2 linked regions of the Homo sapiens genome follow. The protein of the gene in region 2 interacts with the protein of the main gene of each other region in a pairwise test. Each region holds a gene or a part of one and is shown on either strand. Other genes may lie near its edges. The genes, in order: RHOU and ARHGAP30.

The links.
Region 1: the proteins of ARHGAP30 (region 2) and RHOU interact in binary tests that used the Homo sapiens proteins (3 or more experiments, as listed by UniProt).

Annotation. Positions count from the first base shown.
Region 1 is NC_000001.11:228,730,411-228,739,229, reverse strand, and holds the start of RHOU (rho-related GTP-binding protein RhoU), read right to left. Parts: upstream 3,752-8,819; 5' UTR 3,488-3,751; coding exon 3,226-3,487; intron 1,558-3,225; coding exon 1,499-1,557; intron 1-1,498. UniProt on the Homo sapiens protein: Binds to and activates protein kinase PAK1. Plays a role in the regulation of cell morphology, cytoskeletal organization and focal adhesion assembly during cell migration. Also stimulates quiescent cells to reenter the cell cycle.
Region 2 is NC_000001.11:161,064,929-161,074,393, forward strand, and holds the start of ARHGAP30 (rho GTPase-activating protein 30), read right to left. Parts: upstream 4,964-9,465; 5' UTR 4,697-4,963; coding exon 4,600-4,696; intron 1-4,599. Other genes in the region: NECTIN4 (nectin-4), read right to left, coding at 7,733-7,957, 8,297-8,371, 8,792-8,867, 9,289-9,448. UniProt on the Homo sapiens protein: GTPase-activating protein (GAP) for RAC1 and RHOA, but not for CDC42.

The sequences.
Region 1 (8,819 bases), about 68 Mb from region 2:
CTTCATACAAGGAAATGAAGCTTGAATTATAAATATCACCATTGCATTCAGAAAGATTCAGTGCTAGAAGTGACTGTATTCTTTGATTTTTCTTTTTTTTTACCCCCAAGAGATGGGATCTTGCTCTGTCGCCCAGGCTGGAGTGCAGTGGCACCATCATAGCTCACTACAGCCTCAAACTCCTGGGTTCAAGCGATCCTCTCACCTCAGCCTCCTGAGTGGCTGGTGGCTGGGACTACAGACAGTGCCACCACACCAGGCTAATTTTTTTATTTTGTAGAGATGATGTCTTGCTATGCTACCCAGGCTGGTCTCAAATTCCTGGCCTCATGCAATCCTCCCACCTCAGCCTCCCAAAGAGCATGAGCCACCACACCCAGCCTGATTTTTGTTTTCTACAGACAATACAATACGGACAGTGCTTGGTTTTTCCAAGCTGAAGTGCTCCCAAGCTATGGCCTGCACCAGCCCGGTGTTCCTTGGAGATCAAGGCTCCACGGTCTTATGTCATCTTCAGGTTTAAAAAATAAGATCTGTCCTTAGCTCTGAATCTGCTGTCCCAGAGTAGGTGAGCAACTTGGAAGCTCTGGCGTAGATGAGGCTCTGGGGGGCAGTGGAAAGCCAGTGCCTTCATAAACACAGATAGTCATGTGATGGCACCTCAGAAAGTGAAGGGGGCACTTTCACCTGCCTACAAAGTACCCCCGGAACTTTGCTGAACTCTAGAACATACTAGAGAGACAAGTTCATTAACTATCACTTTGCCAAAATCAAGTACCCCTGGGTGTTCACAAGGCACAGCCTGACTTCAATGACTCGAGTACCCACCAATGGGGGCTTCTTCTGGGGAACACAAAGAGGGAACCCTACACTCCCTGGCTATTTCCTCCAAGGGCCCAGCCCTCGAGACAAGAACCAGCGTTCACAGTTTGGATAGAATAAGCCCAGTTAGTTCATCCCTCCAGCTTAGGACTGCTCTGACAAATGTATCTGTGCTTCAAGTGATGGGGCTGGTCCTAGCGAGTCAAACCATAGCTCAGGAAGGGAAATATTAACCCTTACTGATGTAAATTCCATCTTTTTCTTGAGCAAATTTCTTCAATATCTGACTCACTGGCCTTTAATAAAACGATTATAAGACATCACTAACTTAGTTTGGGAAATGATGACAAAGCATCACTGAAATTTTTTCATAAAAACCAGGGAGTAAGTAATAGAAACTCCTACAAGAGCTGTTCTTGACACTGCTTCCTCCCTTGCCTGGTTACGCAGAGCTGGGCCAAACCCTGCTTTATTAGTTTGGAGGTATCTTCCTCTGCTTCCTGCCGGCCAATAACCTGGCCCCTGCCCACCCTCAGAGAAGGGCCAACAGCAGGGGTGGGTCCACTTCATGAGGCTTTAGAATGACCCAGTTACTGACTGAGGGAATCAAAGGTTATTTGGAAATCTTTAAAAGGCTGTTTCCTTTCCCAGCACTGAGCTGTAACGTGATACTGACCTGTCCGGCAGTGTCACAGAGTTGGAGTCTCACGGGCCGCCCATCCACAGACACCACCGCTTAAAAACAAAACCAAAATGACAATCAGGAGGTGTCTTTTAACCCCTTTCGGAATACTAATAGTTTTAGCTTTCACTATCATTCTCACTCCAAACCCCTTTGCTCCTATTTTAGGTCCTCTAATGAATTAAAGACTAGCCAAAAACAAGGAGGCCCTGTGGAGGCATTTTTGTATACAAACCCACGGCTGGCAAGTCACTCCATTACCGTGAACCAGGCAGCAAATCCCTGAACGCTTTGATGGTGACCCTAAAAAGGCCTATGCTTTTCTCCCAGTCCTGGAAGATTTATTTTCCTGTCACACTTGTTTCAAAGGACCTAAAAACAACACTGGGGGTAAATGGGAAGCAACCCTGCAGTTTTAAATCAGTGGAAAACCTCACAAATAATTCTGTTTTCCCTTGGGAAAGGTTCCCCAACTTCAGGGTTTATCATACAATTCTAGTGTGTTTTGAGAACATGTGCAAACACAGGCTGCCCGCATTGTCCTGTTTAAGAAATGAGGGCACTCCTTATCTCTATGTCAGGTCAAAAGGAGGATTAAAAAAGAAAAAAGAAAGCCATGGCCCCCTTTCCACTGGGATCCGGGGACTCGGGGAGTGTGGAGAGGCCTGCAGCAGGACATGTTGTGGAGGTTTCTATTTTAATTAAGCAGTCAGTTTTGTCTCTTTCTACACAACTTTCTAATTGTTTCTAAATATTTATACTAGTCAGCTGCAGGGGTGGGGTGGGGGGAGGGGAAGAAACAATACCCTGCGGTGGGAACCCACCAGTACAGCACCCATTTCTCTAAGGTACCTTTGGGATGAAAGGAAGGTCAGAGAAGCAATTTTTTTTTAAAGAAGCAAGACAGTTAAGTGTTTCATACTAGTTTCTGTGAATTTTAACTTTTTCTTAAATTTCAAAAAGACCTGAATAGCAAGATAGAGAATTCCTTTCTCTTTGTATCTACCAAGGGAAATGGCATCGCACCCGGTACATAGGAGCTTTAAGTAGCTTAAAGGGATCCTGAAAAGATACCAACAATCAGAATCCGAGCCCATGTGGGCAGGGAAGGTGGTGGGGCTCAGAAGAAAGAAATGGTGTTTACTCTTCAGGTTTCATCCAAACCTAAGCCTTCACGAGGGCCGCTCGCGCTTTTTCACTAAATCAAGTGTTTTCCCGGCGTCTCCGCGGCTCTTTAAAGCGGAGACGCCCCTTGTGAGCTGAGCCGCCTAAAAGCAAAGGAGCGACGCTCAGGTAAAGGCACCTGCGCGTCACCTTCTGATTGAAACTCTGCAGCGGCGCCAGCGACGTCGCCCTCAGGAAACTTTGCTCTATGCAACAAACTGACCGGGCACCCTGAACTCAACCTGTTTCACTCCTACTTATCTGTTGCTTAAATTGTGAGATTTTTTTTTTTTTTTTTTTTGGCAAGGCTCTGACTGCCGCTCCGCCCTCCTCTCTCCAAGCCCACTCCGCCGTGGTCCTTTCGTGTTAGCTCCGCGCTTGCCCGGTCCCTGAGACTCAGGAAACGTCCTGCACTCCTCATTTGTCCGGCTTCCCAGCTGGAGCCGCGCCCGGGGCCCTGCAGCCCCCTTGGGAACCTCGCGACCCTCGCGCCACCTTCCTTCCCCTGGGTGGACCGCGGCCACGCGCCCCCGGCCCCGGCCCCCCGGCCAGCTCACCGGAGAAGTTGTCGAAGGCAGTAGGGATGTACTCGGTGGGGTAGCCGTTGGTGGTGTAGCTCACCACCAGGCTCGTCTTGCCCACCGCGCCGTCGCCGACCAGCACGCACTTGACGCCGCGCCCCTCGGCACCCCCCGCACGCCCCCGGCCCCCCGGCTCCCCAGGCCCGCGTCCCCCGCGTCCACCGCGCTCCCGACGCGGCGGCACCGGAGGCGCCTCGCAGCGGTCGGGGAACGCGGGGTCCCCCTGCTGCGGGGGCATCGATCCGCGAGCGCGGGCTTGCGGTCGCGGGCTAGCAGGGCCCGGCCCGACCGCCCCTCCGCCCCGGAGGGTTGCGGTAGGGAGGAGCTGTCACCGACAGCTGCGGGCGCGTCCCCGGCCCTGGAGAGTGGCGGTTCCGGGCCGCACGGCCAGTAGACAAAGGCGGCCAGGGAGGGTCGTGGCTCCGCGCTCCGGCGGCGCCAGCCGCTCTGCCCTGCGCTGTTGGAGGACAGCGGTCCGAGCGCCGTGGATCCCAAGCGCTCTGTCTCCGCCCGGCTTCCCGGCGACACGACGCGTGGGGGGCGGGCAGGCGGGCGGGCTGGCGGGGAGGGAAAAGAGGCGGGTCTGGCCGAGCGGCTCGGTCCCCGCGCCAAGACCACAGCGCCCCCCGCCTGCGCGCCGCGCGCCTGCACCCGCGCCCGAGGCGCCGCCGCGACCAGGCGGGGACTGCGAACACTGGCGCGGGAGGACCTGGAACACACGTTCCGGGGGACCCCGCGCACCCGGTCCGGGAAGCGACGCCCGAAGGAGCCGGGCCAGCCTCCGCAGCCTCCTCCCCAGCTCCCAAGAGGGTGACCACCGCGCGACTGGCCCGGGAGGTTCCGCTTTCTGGCGCCCACGCGAGCCAGGAAGCCTGAGCCGCCTCCTATTCACTCCGTGGAGCCCCCGGCTGGCCACGGCTCCACCCAGGGGGAAAAATGAAGTGTCCTGGAGGCCTGTCCTGCGAATGAGATTGAATTAACAGACAGCTTTTTTCCTTAAGTCTAACTGCAGCTGATCGTGTGATTTTTTCTCATTTTGAAGCAAAAGGATGCCAGCTCCATTGTGAATGCTCCTTTGACTTTGTCTTTCGGCATGCCGTGAACCTTTATACATGTATGCTCCAGAAATTTTTTTATACCCCCAATTCCTTCATTTACTTAAAGGTAATTCGGAGACATTAATATGTCTGAAAAAATATTCCGTTTCCCTTTGATTCATTTCTCTCTCTGCCTTCCTTCTACATGTGGTCAACAGTCTATTCAGAAAAAGGACGCCTCTTAGCCAAGTCAGAATACCAAGAGTCCTGGGGGTGTACAGCGTGGTGTGAGAAGGGCCACATATTATTAATACACATTGATACTAGTGGTAGTAAAAATAACAATAACAAATACTGAACTTTCATAATGTGTCAGATACTGTTGTAAGCACTCTTCAAGAACTAATTCTTTTAATCTTAACATTACTTACAGATGAGAACACCTGAGGCACAGAGATATTAAGTAACGTTTTGGGATTCCACAAGCTAGTAAGTGGCAATGCCAGGATCCAAACCCAAATAGTCTAGCCCCAGAGCCTGAGCTTCTAACCAAAATCCTGGAGGCAAAAATAAGTCAGTATGATAAACGTAATCTTGAACGTATGGCCATGGTCAGAATGCAGAGATGGATTTATCAAGAAGTTAGAAGCTTGAATCCAGGACCCCTGACTTGCAAAGGACACTTTCACATTGGAAGACCTAGCAATGTGTACACGTGGTAATATGTTTCTGTAAATTTTGAAAAAAAAAAAAGTATTTTAATCACCACCAGTTATGTTCACTGTCTTTTTAAACTGTAACTTACCCTCATATTGAGTGACTTTGAAGAGGCCATGAAGATTTTGGGGATCAGCCAAAGAAAGTGAAGTTGGGGAGACCCAAACAGGTTGTTTGGGTGTAATGGGATACAGAATCAGGATGAAGGTGAGATAAGGGGGATGTCAAGGATGCAAAATTTATGACAAATTGAGCATTCAGAGGCAATATCAAAAAACAACAAATTTAGAGGGCCCTTACTCTCAGGGTCAGGCAAGTGCCAATGTTAAGTTTTGAGCCTCAGGTACCTGACTTGCCTCTCCCTCGCCCTGGCTGTGATGACAGGATATATTTATGTGGTTTACAGTTCTCCTATGTAGATATGTTGTTGCTAGCCATCCAGGTATAGGAATGGCTACCACTGACATACCTATGACCCTCTGTGAGAGTCACATTGGTGCCCTTAACTGTCTTACTTTCCCCAACACTAGAAGGGTTCCAGTAGCAAGAGTAGCAGAGCTTGAGATGGGCAGAGCTGGAAGCTAGTCTGGCAATTCTTTCCATCATAAAGCACCTAATATCGGCTGGTGCGGTGGCTCACGCCTGTAATCCCAACACTTTGGGGGGCTGAAGCAGTCAGACCGGTTGAGGCCACGAGTTCGAGACCAGCTTGGCCAACATGGCGAAACCCTGTCTCTACCAAAAATAAAAAAATTAGCCAGGTGTGGTGACTCACACCTGTAATCCAAATACTCCAGAGGCTGAGGTAGGAGGATCACTTGAGCCTGGGAAGTCGAGGCTCCAGTGAGCCCTTGATCAACCAATATACTCTAGCCTGGGCGAGAGTGAGACACTGTCTCAAAAAGAAACAAACAGAAGAAAACACAACATTGTTAGAGAAGGTTTGGTTCTCTCTACTAAACCTGATCAAAACAGAAGTTGTCTGCTGTCAGAAATGTACCTGTACTCTAAATGCAGCAGATACACTTACAAATGCATCATACATTTTTGGAGAAAAATCACATGAAATGAATGATCTGAATTCCCATGTTTGTAAGGACATGAGGCTGTAGTAGTACAACAAAAAGCAAGTTCACCTGTGTGTGAAGTAACTTCCTATTGTTCTTATAGAAAATATCTTACAAAACTGAAGAAGTGATCAAAGGGTATGCAACTGAAAAATGAAAATAATGTCATAGAAGTGTGTCAAGCAGTTTATTAAAATGTCATGTCTTATGTATTTTGTTTAAGTTTATGGTGTTTGTTAGCCTTTTAAAATTTGTAACTTATTGTGATGCATTTCTCACTTTAAACATTTGTTTTTGTATCTAATTTTCTATTCTTAATTTTGTATTTTTTTTTCTTAATGAAGTCTCACAAATGTGATAAGCCTCAGGCCCTACAAAACTTGGCTTTGCCCCTCCATCTGGCCAGCTGTCAGTTTTTGTGTCCTGTGCGTCCCCCTCTTGCTTTTCCCCTTCTCATGCTGAATATCATCCCACGCCCACTCATTTGGGCCCGTTTTTCTGGACACAACTTAGTCAGCTCCCTGCATCCTTATCTAAAATGCCGGGAACTAATGTTTGCCCTATTCATGAGACTCTTCTGTAGGCAACATAGGAAATCAGACCCCACGCCAAACAGTTCGGTATTTCATCCAAGTCCAAAAGCAGAGAGATGACAGAATGCCTACCACTTTACCCCTTTACAGAATGCCTTTACTTTACCCCTTTTTACGTTGAACTGTCCCGCACCCACTCATTTGGGTCCATGTTTCTGGGCTCGACTTAATCAGTCCCCTACAGCCTTATCTAAAATGCTTGGAACTAATGCTACAAGAAGCCCTCCAAGGTGTGTGGGTTCAAGTTGTATGATATATTTGTTTGTTTATTTGCTTATTGTCTGTCTCCTCTTACAAGCTCCATGAAATCAGAAACTTAATGTTGCTCATTCCTATATCCCACACTTAGAAGCACGTGGGGCAAGTAGTAGGTGCTTAATAAATACTTAAGCAGTGGTAAATACGTAAGTGAAAGGAAAACATGTTTTGAACTTGACGGTTCTGCAAAAAAGAAAGAAAGAAAAGGAGAAGAATGTAAAACATGGACTCTCAAAACATGGACAGTTGTATTTTTATGCTTTTATAAAATATTTTTAGAATGAATGAAGGAAATTTGACCACTTCTTGCAGCTATTAATAGAAAACCATGTCTTTGCTCAGTTTTAAGACAAAAAATGCATTACACCTCATGTATTCCCATTTGTTTTTCACCAAGACAGTACAACGCCTTCATTGTGCAGTGGGCCTAGAAAATTCTGAAAACTGGGTGCAGAATTTCCGTTCTTAAGATCTTGTCTCTCTGAGGCCCTCCAGCCCAGCTGTGAGCATTCATCCCCCCTACCTACCCCCAACACCTCCTCCAGGACTTCCAGCAACCCACCCCTGGGTCCCCAACAACATGTCAGAGAAGGTGTCTTCTCCTCGAACTACAGGTCTGTAACCCCTTCCTCCTTCTTCCATGAACTTGCTCTTTCTCCGCTTAGGTGTCACCTCCTCCAAGGATGTTTATTTTTCTGCCTAATTTTCTATACTTAATTTTGTGTTCTTTTTCTTAATGAAGTCCTCAAAATGTGATAAGCTTCAGGCCCGACAAAACTTGGCTTTGCTTCTCCATCTGGCCATCTGTTCGTTTTTGTGTTCCATAGCCTCCCTCTCTTGCTTTACCCCTTTTTATGTTGAACTGTCCCACACCCACTCATTTGGGCCCATCTTTCTGGGCTCAACTGAATCAGTCCCCTACAGCCTTATCTAAAATGCTCAGAACTAACGCTTGCCCTATTCATAAGAATCTTCTACAGGCAACGTAGGAAAGCAGACCTCCACACCAAACAAATTGGTGTTTCATCCAAGTCCAGAAATGTTCCCTGACCCCTTATGTGGATATATTTGTGCTTGTCCCTATCACAGCCCTTATCTAGTGAAATCATCTACTGATTATACAACACCTACCCTTGCTCATAATCCCCTAAAAGGGAGGATCCCCAGTTCACAAAACTCTTCCCCTAGCACAGTATTAATACATTTTCTAGGATTTTTTCCATCAAGTTATTTTAACTGTTCCACTAGCAAATAATTAATAGTGAATTTGTAGTTTTTTACTAAAATGGTAAAAAGAAAAAAAGGTCCTAATAGACTTTCCACTGTGTACATGTCACTTTTGTATCTTTTGATATATTTAAGAAATAAATAAATTTTTATCTGCTCAACATATTCCTTGCCAGGTGTCATTGTCATCATCATATTAAATATAAAGCTGTTTTTCCTGCTATTGATAACATTTCACCATTTACTGAGTACCAAATCAGAACAGCACGGTTTTTTTGGATCTTTCATTTTAGCAGGTCATATAACTCTGTGTGTTCATTCACTCTTTAAATGGTAACCCTTTGCCTTGGACACATTAATCTGATTTCTTTCCTTCAGCAGTGCCCTAGTTTTTTCAATACCCTATAAGAGGACATCAGAAGAATATTTCTCTAGAACTGGAGACTCTAAGCTGGGTTGTCTATTGCCAGCATGGCTGTCTGCTCCCAGAATTTCCTTCTTTGTATGGTTCTCGGCTAAAGTTGTCCGGAGACATGATTCTCAGAATTGAGAAGACTGAAGGGAAGTGGAGGAGGGTCATATGGTCAAACATGCCAGTGGATGGACACAGCGGTGCCCAGCACATCCTCACTAGCCTCCTGCTTTGCAGTGATATCATCTCACTGCTGGCT
Region 2 (9,465 bases):
GGAAGGGAAGGGAAGGGAAGAAGGGAAGGGAAGGGGGAAAAAGCTGTGGTTCTCCTAAACCATCTAACTTTTTTTCCTTATGGGCCCATGAGTCTTGCACTTGATTATGTTTATTTATTTATTTATTTTGAGTTGGGGTGCATTCAAGCAGTTCTGGTGCCTCAGCCTCCTGAGTAGCCAGGACTACAGGTGCACGCCACCATGCCCTGCTAATTTTTATGTTATTTAGTAGGGATGGGGTCTCACCATGTTGGCCAGGCTGGCCTCGAACTCCTGACCACAAGTGATCTGCCTGCCTCGGCCTCCTAAAGTGCTGGGATTACAGGCGTGAGCCACTGGGCCTGGCCTATGTTTACCTCTTTAACCACTAGGAAGCTCAGAGCCCACCTCTAAGAACCATACAGAACAATGTAATATGCATTTCTGGGTGCTGATCTTTCTCTTCCTCTTGTTTTTCCTTCAACCCAATTCCTTCAATCATTTATTCTAATTTTTTGTAAAGTTTTAGGTTTTGAAAGTCATTCCAAGCTCTTTGTTGAATAAAGTATGACAGAAATATGGAATGAAGAAAATAATCAATAAATTCATCAATCCCAATCTTTCCTTTTTCTTTTTTCTTTTTCTTTTTTCTTTTTTCTTTTCTTTTTTTTTCTGAGACGGAGTTTCACTCTTGTTGCCCAGGCTGGAGAGTGCAATGGCGCGATCTCAGTTCACTGCAACCTCCGCCTCCCAGATTCAAGAGATTCTCCTGCCTCAGCCTCCCAAGTAGCTAGGATTACAGGCACCCACCACTCTGCCCGGCTAATTTTTATATTTCTAGTAGAGACAGAGTTTCTCCATGTTGGTCAGGCTGGTCTCAAACTCCCGACCTCAGGTGATCCACCCACCTTGGCTTCCCAAAGTGTTGGGATTACAGGCGTGAGCCACTGCACCCGGCCCCTTATTTATTTATTTATTTATTTATTTATTTATTTATTTATTTATTTGAGACAGAGTCTCACTTTGTTGCCCAGGCTGGAGTGCAGTGGTGCAGTCTTGGCTCACTGAAGCCTCAGCCTCCCGAGTAGCTGGGACTACAGGCGCACACCACCATGTCCAGCTAATTTTTGTATTTTTAGTAGAGACGGAATCTCACCATGTTGGCCAGGCTGGCCTCAAACTCCTGACCTCAAGTGATCCACCCGCCTTGGCCTCCCAAAGTGCTGGGATTACAGGCGTGAGCCACCATGCTCAGCCAACCAAAATCTTTCAACTCTCCTCATACGACCTGGCTTTCAGACCCTTCATCCTCCTGCACACCACAGCCAGGAGTTGGGTGGGATTAGGGAAGCATCTAGTGTGCAAAATTTAAGGAAGCACTTATTCTCAGGGCCATGGAGATGCCAACCATGCCCATGCACGGTCTTGAGTACCTCCTTGAGAATGAGGCATCTAGGGGCCTGGTGTGGTGGCTCACACCTGTAATCCCAGCACTTTGGGAGGCCGAGGCGAGTGGATCACCTGAGCTCAGGAGTTCAAGACTAGCCTGGCCAACATGGCAAAACCCCGTCTCCACTAAAAAGTACAAAAATTAGCCAGGCGTGGTGGTGCCTGTAGTCCCAGCTACTCGAGAGGCTGAGGCAGGGAGAATTGCTTGAACCCTGGAGGTCGAGGTTGCAGTAAGCCAAGATGGTTGTGCTGCACTCCAGCCTGGGTGACAGAGCAAGACTGCATCTCAAAAAAAAAAAAAAAAAAAAAAAAAAAAGGCACCTAGGGCAATTGTACGACACTGAAAGTGAGTGCTTCCTTAAATTTTGCACCCTAGTCATGTCTCTTGCCTCGTCTTAGTCTCAGTCCTACAGTTCACCATCCATCGTTTCAGTACCTACTCCCATTTTCTAGGATCCCACTGACCTCAGGTTCCCAGCATTGAATGCAGAGATAGGGCAGGCCCCTCCTTGTCTGAGCTGCTGCTGTACTCTCGGGTGCCTAATGCTAAGCCAACTCTTTTGACTCATAAATAGTCTGCTGTCACCTAAACCACCAGGTTTTTGTCACATGAGCAGCATACAAACCAGGTCTTCTCTATCCTATCCTTCTCTGCTGATTTTGAACCTCCAGAGTCCTTTAAAGGGGACACTCAAAAGCCTAAGGAGTCACAGCCATAGAAGAACTGGGTCAAGGAGATGGGGGAAGAGACAACAGGGTCACAGAGATGGGGGAGTTAGGGAGATAGAGATCAGAGAGATGAGATCAGAGATAAAACCTACAGACAGGATTGGAGCGATGAAGTCAAAGGGATGGAGACATCGAGGAAATAAGAGTAGGGTCAGGGAGGAAGGCCAAAAGCTTAGGGACCTGAGAATTAGAAACCTGAACAATCGGCCAGGTGCGGTGGCTCACGCCTGTAATCCCAGCACTTTGGGAGGCCGAGGCGGGTGGATCATGAGGTCAGTGTTCGAGACCAGCCTGGCCAACATGGTGAAACCCTGTCTCTACTAAAAATACAAAAATTAGCTGGGTGTGGTGGTGCCTGCCTGTAATCCCAGCTACTCTGGAGGCTGAGGCAGGAGAACTGCTTGAACCTGGGAGGCAGAGGTTGCAGTGAGCCGAGATCACCCCACTACACTCCAGCCTGGGACAGAGCAAGACTCCATCTCAAAAAAGAAAGAAAGAAAGAAAGAAAGAAACCTGAACAATCTATCAAAGATTAGGAAAAGAAAGAATTCAGTATATACAGGGCTTAAGGAAGGAAGAGACCCATGTGGGGGCAAAGAGCTGGAGAGAGGGCTGAGATGGAGCAAGGCTGTGGGGATGGGGGAGACCAACGTGATCAGGGAGGATAAATTAAGCGAAAACAAAGATCTCTCTGCTCTCATTTTTTTGTGGATGTTGGATTAAAGAGAGGAACCATCACCAGCCTCTCTCTGTCCTTCCTTCCACTTTCCACCTCTCTGTACCAGGAAGACCTGAGGGATAGGGAAGGAGCCACCACTGCTACTCTGGTGCCCAAGATCAACCCACCCTTGGGTTCTGTGAGGTTCTGGTCTCCTGCTCTCGGATTCACCTAGGATCAGGATTCAGCAATCAGATCTGTCTGTCCCCTCTAGAGAGTGTGCCCCTTCCCTGCTAGGAATCCAGGAAGAGGCCGGGAGGGTTATAGGAGCAGGGTCTGGGCTGGCTGTGGGTTCAGTGTTTCAAGATAAAATTGGTTGGTGGACCACAAAAAAGGGCAGTACCAGGAAAGGCTGAACTGAGGGTTTGCATTGAGCTGGGAGGAGCACATCATCCCCAATTAAATCTCATAATCCTTGGCTAAGAATCATAGCTCTTGAGAGGAGTCCCTTAGAAAGGAGTAAGCCCTGCACTGATGGCTGTGCCACCTCCACTCTGCCCAGTGAGAAGAGGAAGGCTCAAATAAGCTCGCTTCAGCTGTTTAACACTCTTCCTTGGGGTCTGGGCTTTCCCTTAACCAAGGGCAATGGGGATAGGGGTCCTCTCACTGGAGGAGAAAAGGGGAAGGAGGTGTCTGGGGACGCAGGGGCGGGGCTAAGAGCAGGAAATGATCTGGGAACCACCATCACCCTCCCTCCGCTGCAAGCACCACAGCCCAGAGCAGAGGAGGGGACAAAGAGGAAATGACAGATTGGGGTGGGGTGGAATGGGGTGGAGTGGGGAAAGAATTATGCCTTTCTCTAGGAGGAGCTTGAAGTGCCAAAAACAAGCTGGGCTGGGCAGCCAGGGTGCCTGGGTTCAATTTCAAATTGAATCAAGAAATGATTTTGAGTGGCTGCTCCATGCCAGGCCCCGTTGTGAACCTGATATTGTCCCTGGTCCTTCTGGCTTCAAAGCCCACTCTAAGGTAACCCAGGGAGGGAGCTGGGTGAGCTCCACAGACAGCTCCACACCCACCCTCCTTTGCACCCTCCACCTCCAGCTTCAAGCCAGGCCTCACACCCTCTCTTTCATTCTTCCCCATTTCAGCAGCTTCTCCCCTTGCCCCCCACTTTGAACCTGTTTCTCTTTTGCACAGGGACAACAAGAGAATCACAAAGACTAGGGGCAGAGGTTGTTTCCAGCCCGACATCATCCCCTGCGGCCCAGCAAGGCTGCAGTGGGAACAGAGCCCATGACCTTGTCCTTGGGTGTTCTCCAGCCAGGAAACCACCCGCCTCAAGGGCCATCTTGAGACCCTTCTGGGGCCATTTCCCTGTCTCCTTTCATTCAGACCTAAGGATAATCATTTCCCCTTCAGCCACTCCTCTCCTGACCCTGTCGCCTCACCCTCCCTCTCCTGTTCCCAGTCACCTGCCCGCTGTTTCATCCACTCCTCCTCGGTTTCCAGTCTCTCCATCCTCCCCCTCACTGCTACCTGGGTACTCACATTCTCATCCCCTCAGCCACCCCATCCCCAGAAAGTTACACAAGGGAGCCGCCCTGCCTTCTTCACTGAGCCACATTTCCTGTCTTGCCCACTTACAGTTCTCTTGAATGGTGACCCCAGGCCACTGCCCCTTCCCCAGGAGCACCGGAAACTGCTTCTGCCCTTCAGGCTGGATCGGGCTGCAGATGCCCAGTGCCTCCCCACCCACCCTGCAGAAGCTGAGCCGGCCTCCTTACCCTCCTGGCCTGAGTGCTGCAGGTGCTCCTGCAAGTCGCACCCAAAAACCCGCTCCTTTGCGCTGCCCTTCTTCTTTCCTTTCTGCCGAGACTTCATGGCCAGAGCCCCAGGGCACTGGCCCGGTCACCTCTATCCCCCAAGACCTGTGCCCTACCAGTCCCCCATGGGATCCCAGCCAGCTGCTGGGCTTGGCCCGGCCCCAGGGGGGCAGGGCTCCCAATTGGGGGTGGAGGGTGGCCTGGGCAACGGGCAGCAGCTCCTGCCCCTGGGGCCCCGGCCACACGGAAGTGGCTGTTGAAGAGGAAGCTACCAGGACCCTGGCAAGAAATTGTGTCCTGTGTCTCGTGGCCCAGCCTGGCACTCGCCCTCCTCGCCCCGCTCAGCTTTAGGGGGCAGGAAGCAGTGCAGCTCCTTAACCCACTTCCTGTTAGAGCATCTTTGCAACCACAGGGCCTAGGGTGGGGGAGGTAGCTGACATTCACATCCTCACCCTTTGCTTGGACTTCATTCATTGGTCAGGGGAGGTGATGTCAGAGCCCTGGGGTGGGGTGATGGCGTCTGTGGTGTGAGCAGGTGACCAACTCCCTTAGAGACCAGAATTCTTGGGTCCAAGGTAGAGACCTGGGGCTTGCCTGGGAGCAAGTTGACACAGGGCTGTAAAAAGCACACTCACAAGGGAGGATGCCTGGGTTCTGCCTCTGATGGATCTAGCACCTCAGTCAAATCGCATTACTTCACTGAGCCTCAGTTTCCAAACCTAGGAAAATGAAGGGAGCAGACTAGAGGACCTTTAAATCCTCCCACCTCTAAGAGTCTGTAAAACTCATTTAACTTGAGTTTCAGTTTCTTTACCTGTAAAAAAGGGTACACTGCTGCCTATTTCACATAGCTGTTGTTGAGTCTCCAGTACAATAAGGAATTCAGGCTGGGCGCAGTGGCTCACGCCTGTAATCCCAGCACTTTGGGAGGCTGAGGCGGGTGAATCACCTGAGGTCAGGAGTTCGAGACCAGCTTGGCCAACATGGTGAAACCCTGTCTCTACTAAAAATACAAAAACTAACTGAGCATGGTGACGGGTGCCTGTAATCCCAGCTATACGGGAGGCTGAGGTGAGAGAATCGCTTGAACCTGGGAGTCGGAGGTTGCAGTGAGCTGAGATAGTGCCACTGCACTCCAGCCTGGGTGACAAAGTGAGACTTCATCTCAAAAAAAAAAAAAAAAGGAATTTAAAACACTTTGCAAACTAAGGTACTGGCCATCCTCGAAAGGGTTCTTAGCTTCACTTTCCTACCAGGGGACTCTCAGAGATGGCCAAAGGCCTTGTGGAGGCCAATTCTTTCCCTTCCCTCCCAGCTACAGGCATCCTAAGTCTTCCCCTACTTGGGACTACAGGAAGGATGGTACCGAGACAGAGAGTATGTGACTCAGAGCTTACACAGTTCAAGGGGCAAGACAGGAGCCAGACAGAACAAGTTTTGTCTGTTTATTTAAAAACAGAATATCATTTTATGTACAAATATGCACATATTTACATAAAATGTACATGTTAGGATCTTAGATCTTCAGGCTCCACATTCGAAGTCCTAGGCTGGCTGGGGAACGAAGGATGGGAGCCTCTCCCTTAGGCCAGAAATCCAGCAGATTTCAGACTAAGAAGAGTTTGGGTACTAAATCTAGGTATTCTGGCTGAGTGTATCTGGGTGGGCCAGCTAAAAATAAACCTCATTGAACTCCAGCCCCAACCCAGAGAAACATCCAGAAGAGCCTTGAATTAGTGATCCAAAACCCAGGGGGAAAGGCGACATTCTCACCCCCAGCACCTCCTTCACCTCACCTCAACTCCTACTCTCTCGGTCTATAATCACTGCTCTCTCTCTCCCCAACACCACTATTGAACAGGAGCCCTTGTCACCAGGTCCAAGCAATTCCCTAAGGTATCACAAACAATGGTGGATGCAATTTTACCTTACTCAGTAACCACGAGGCTCACATCCCTAATTTCAGACTCTACCAGCTCTCAGGTGCCCTCCCAAGGGGCTGCCTGCATGAAGATGCCTTGGAAGTAGCCCCTTTCACAATCACAGGAATTAACCCCCTGGTGTTGGAGGGGCCTCACTTTAAGCAATCCCAGTAGTAAACATTGGATAAATCTAAAGGCTTTCTTTAATTTTTTTTTTCTCTTCGTAAAGGATTCAAAGCAGGCACAGTGGTGTACACTTAAAGTCCCAGCTACTAGGGAGGCTGAGGCAGGAGGATTGCTTGAGCCCAGGAGTTCAAGGCCAGCCTGAGCAACATAGTGAGACTCCATCTCTAAAAAAAAATAAAAATAAAAATAAATAAAAAATACAACTAATGGAAAGGGCAAGAAAAAAAAAAGAAAAAAATTAAAAGTGATTCGGAGCAGTATTCCTGCAAGAAGCTCCCGGCGCATGTATATTTACAGAAAATATGTACATGCAGCAGGCCCAGAGGCCACCAGAGGGCAGAGGGCTTCTGTAACAGTTCAAGCCTCTGGCTGACCCAGGGACTGGCTGCTTCACACTTGCCCCCATGGCTCCGAAGTGGTAGGAGACAGGTTCCCTCACACCGGAGGCAGATTCCAGCTCCAGCTATGCCCGCACACCTGGGTCTGAGCCACAGTCTCCACCTCTCTCCTCCAACCTCTGCATCATTAATACTGCTCTGGGGTCTGAGAAAATACCTGCTTTTTCAGGCAGAGGTCACACACAGCCACATGACACACACGCCAAACCCTGACAGTGTTGCCCACGCAACCACTCAAATCCCGTGGCACATACACCACAGTTCACTTGACTCTGATATGACAGCATAATACACACCACGGACACAGTCACCCCTCCACGGACAGTCACCCCTCCACACACACACAGTCAGTCAACACTCACACAGGCACACATGCACACACACAGTGACCTGCATGCATGGTGGGAGAGACTCAATTGGTGGAGCCCTCCCGATGAACAGAAGGGTTGGAGGTAAAGGTCAAGCAGTCAGTGGGATGGGGAGCATCTTCCGCAAGAAATGGGGGTGTTTAAGGAGGCCCCCAAGATGAGCTAAAATCTCCCATGTCAACAGAAGGAGCCAGGCCTAGGGAAGGGAGGCAGGCCTGGGTCAGACCAGGTGTCCCCGCCCATTGATGTAGATGCCATTGCCCGTGGGCTTGGCCCGTAGGGTCCCATTCTCCTGAACAAAATGGTTCATGGCCTGTTTGATGCCTTCATCCTGATCTTCCTCCTCCTCGGCCCGCCCAGAGCCTGGAGACAGCAGTTCAGTCTGTGTTTCTATCTCCCTCACCGTGGTCAGCGTGGAGTAACTGCGGCCCTCGGGCTCTTCACTCTGGAGACCAAGGGCAAAGGGCAAGTCAGGAACAAAGGCAGGGCAGCTGCACATGGTGGGGCATGGCTGGGTCATGGTGGGATCAGAGGCCAGGCGTAAGCAGGGGTAACGGTTGCCTCAGAAGCATAGGGGCCCAGAGATCGGGGACCAGGAACAAGTGTTAGGCATGGGGAGAGGGAGACGGGAGAACAAAGACGTAGCAGAGATGCGGTGCTGGGCTGCATGAGCCAGGGCTAAGGAAAGAGGGACTGGTAAGGGGGCTGCTGACGCACCATATCTGGGACCAGGACAGGGGCCCGAGGAGAGTGGTGGGGACACCGGTGGGGCCGGGGGCCTCACCATCACAGAGCAGCTACTGTTGTCCTTGAGACTATCAGGGTGGCCCTCGGCTCTCAGCCCTACACTCTCCTCCGGCTGCAGGGCCCAGACACGGGGCAGTTAGAACAGGGCTCAGCCTCCTCCCCTCAGCCTCTTCCCCTCTTGTCCTCCACCAGCCTCCTCCCTACTTGCCTGTCCCCCAACCCAACAGGTCCATTCTCTCCTGGAAACAAACATCCTCATTTCCCCACTGCGACCACAAACCCACCCTGGAAGCAGAACTGATGGTGGCTTCCCAGAAAAGGCCCTAGGCCAATGCTGAAGGGGGCCTTCTGGAGCAGCCCTAGCAGACCCAAAGCAGCTACACCCTCTCAACTCTACCCCGGCCAACCCCAGCTGTGAGTCAGTGGCTGACCCAGCAGAGAGCTGTGCTCCTGGTCTGCAGAGGGGCCCAGGCACAAGCAGACCCCAATGCGACCACACCCCTGCATGCATACACCCAACCTTGGCACACACCTGGCTCCTGGGGTCCGTGTGATGGGAATGCAGCCTCCGGATGGAGTTCTCCCTGGTCAGGGTCAGCTCCTCCTCACTGGGAAAGACACACCCTTGTCAGGAGCTGAGGGTAGTGGCAGCCTCCCAAGGTGAGCCTATCCTGGCTGAGCCTAGTGAGACAGGCCCGGAGGGTGTGGGTGCCGTGCTGGCCCTGCAAGTGTGAGTGTGTGGCTGCAGGTGGCAGTGAGGCTGAAGAGCATGTGTGTGCTGTGTGCGTGTGCATACTTGGCAACATCCAGGCACATGGATCTGAGCCTCACTAAGGTGGAAGGATTGAGTGCTCCATCTGTGCTCCAGACCCTTAGCTCCTCCTCAGCCCTAGAAACACCCTGCCCACCTCTAGTCTGAAACTCCTCAGTTTTCAGCCTACCCAGTCTCCTCGGTCCTGGCCCACCTCCTGCTATCCTCTTCTTTGTTCTCAGCTTAGTTCTACCCACCCAGGAGTGCCCAGTACTCACTATTTCTGGGTCATCTGCTGGGCCTTGCGCCGATGGTATCGGGACATGAGCACCACCACCACCACCAGAAGGCAGAACAAGAGTGCGGCGATCACACCCACCACCACCACCGAGGCTGACACTAGGTCCACCTGCTTCCCAGAGTCTTCCTGGGGGTCTGCTGGAGACAGGCCACTG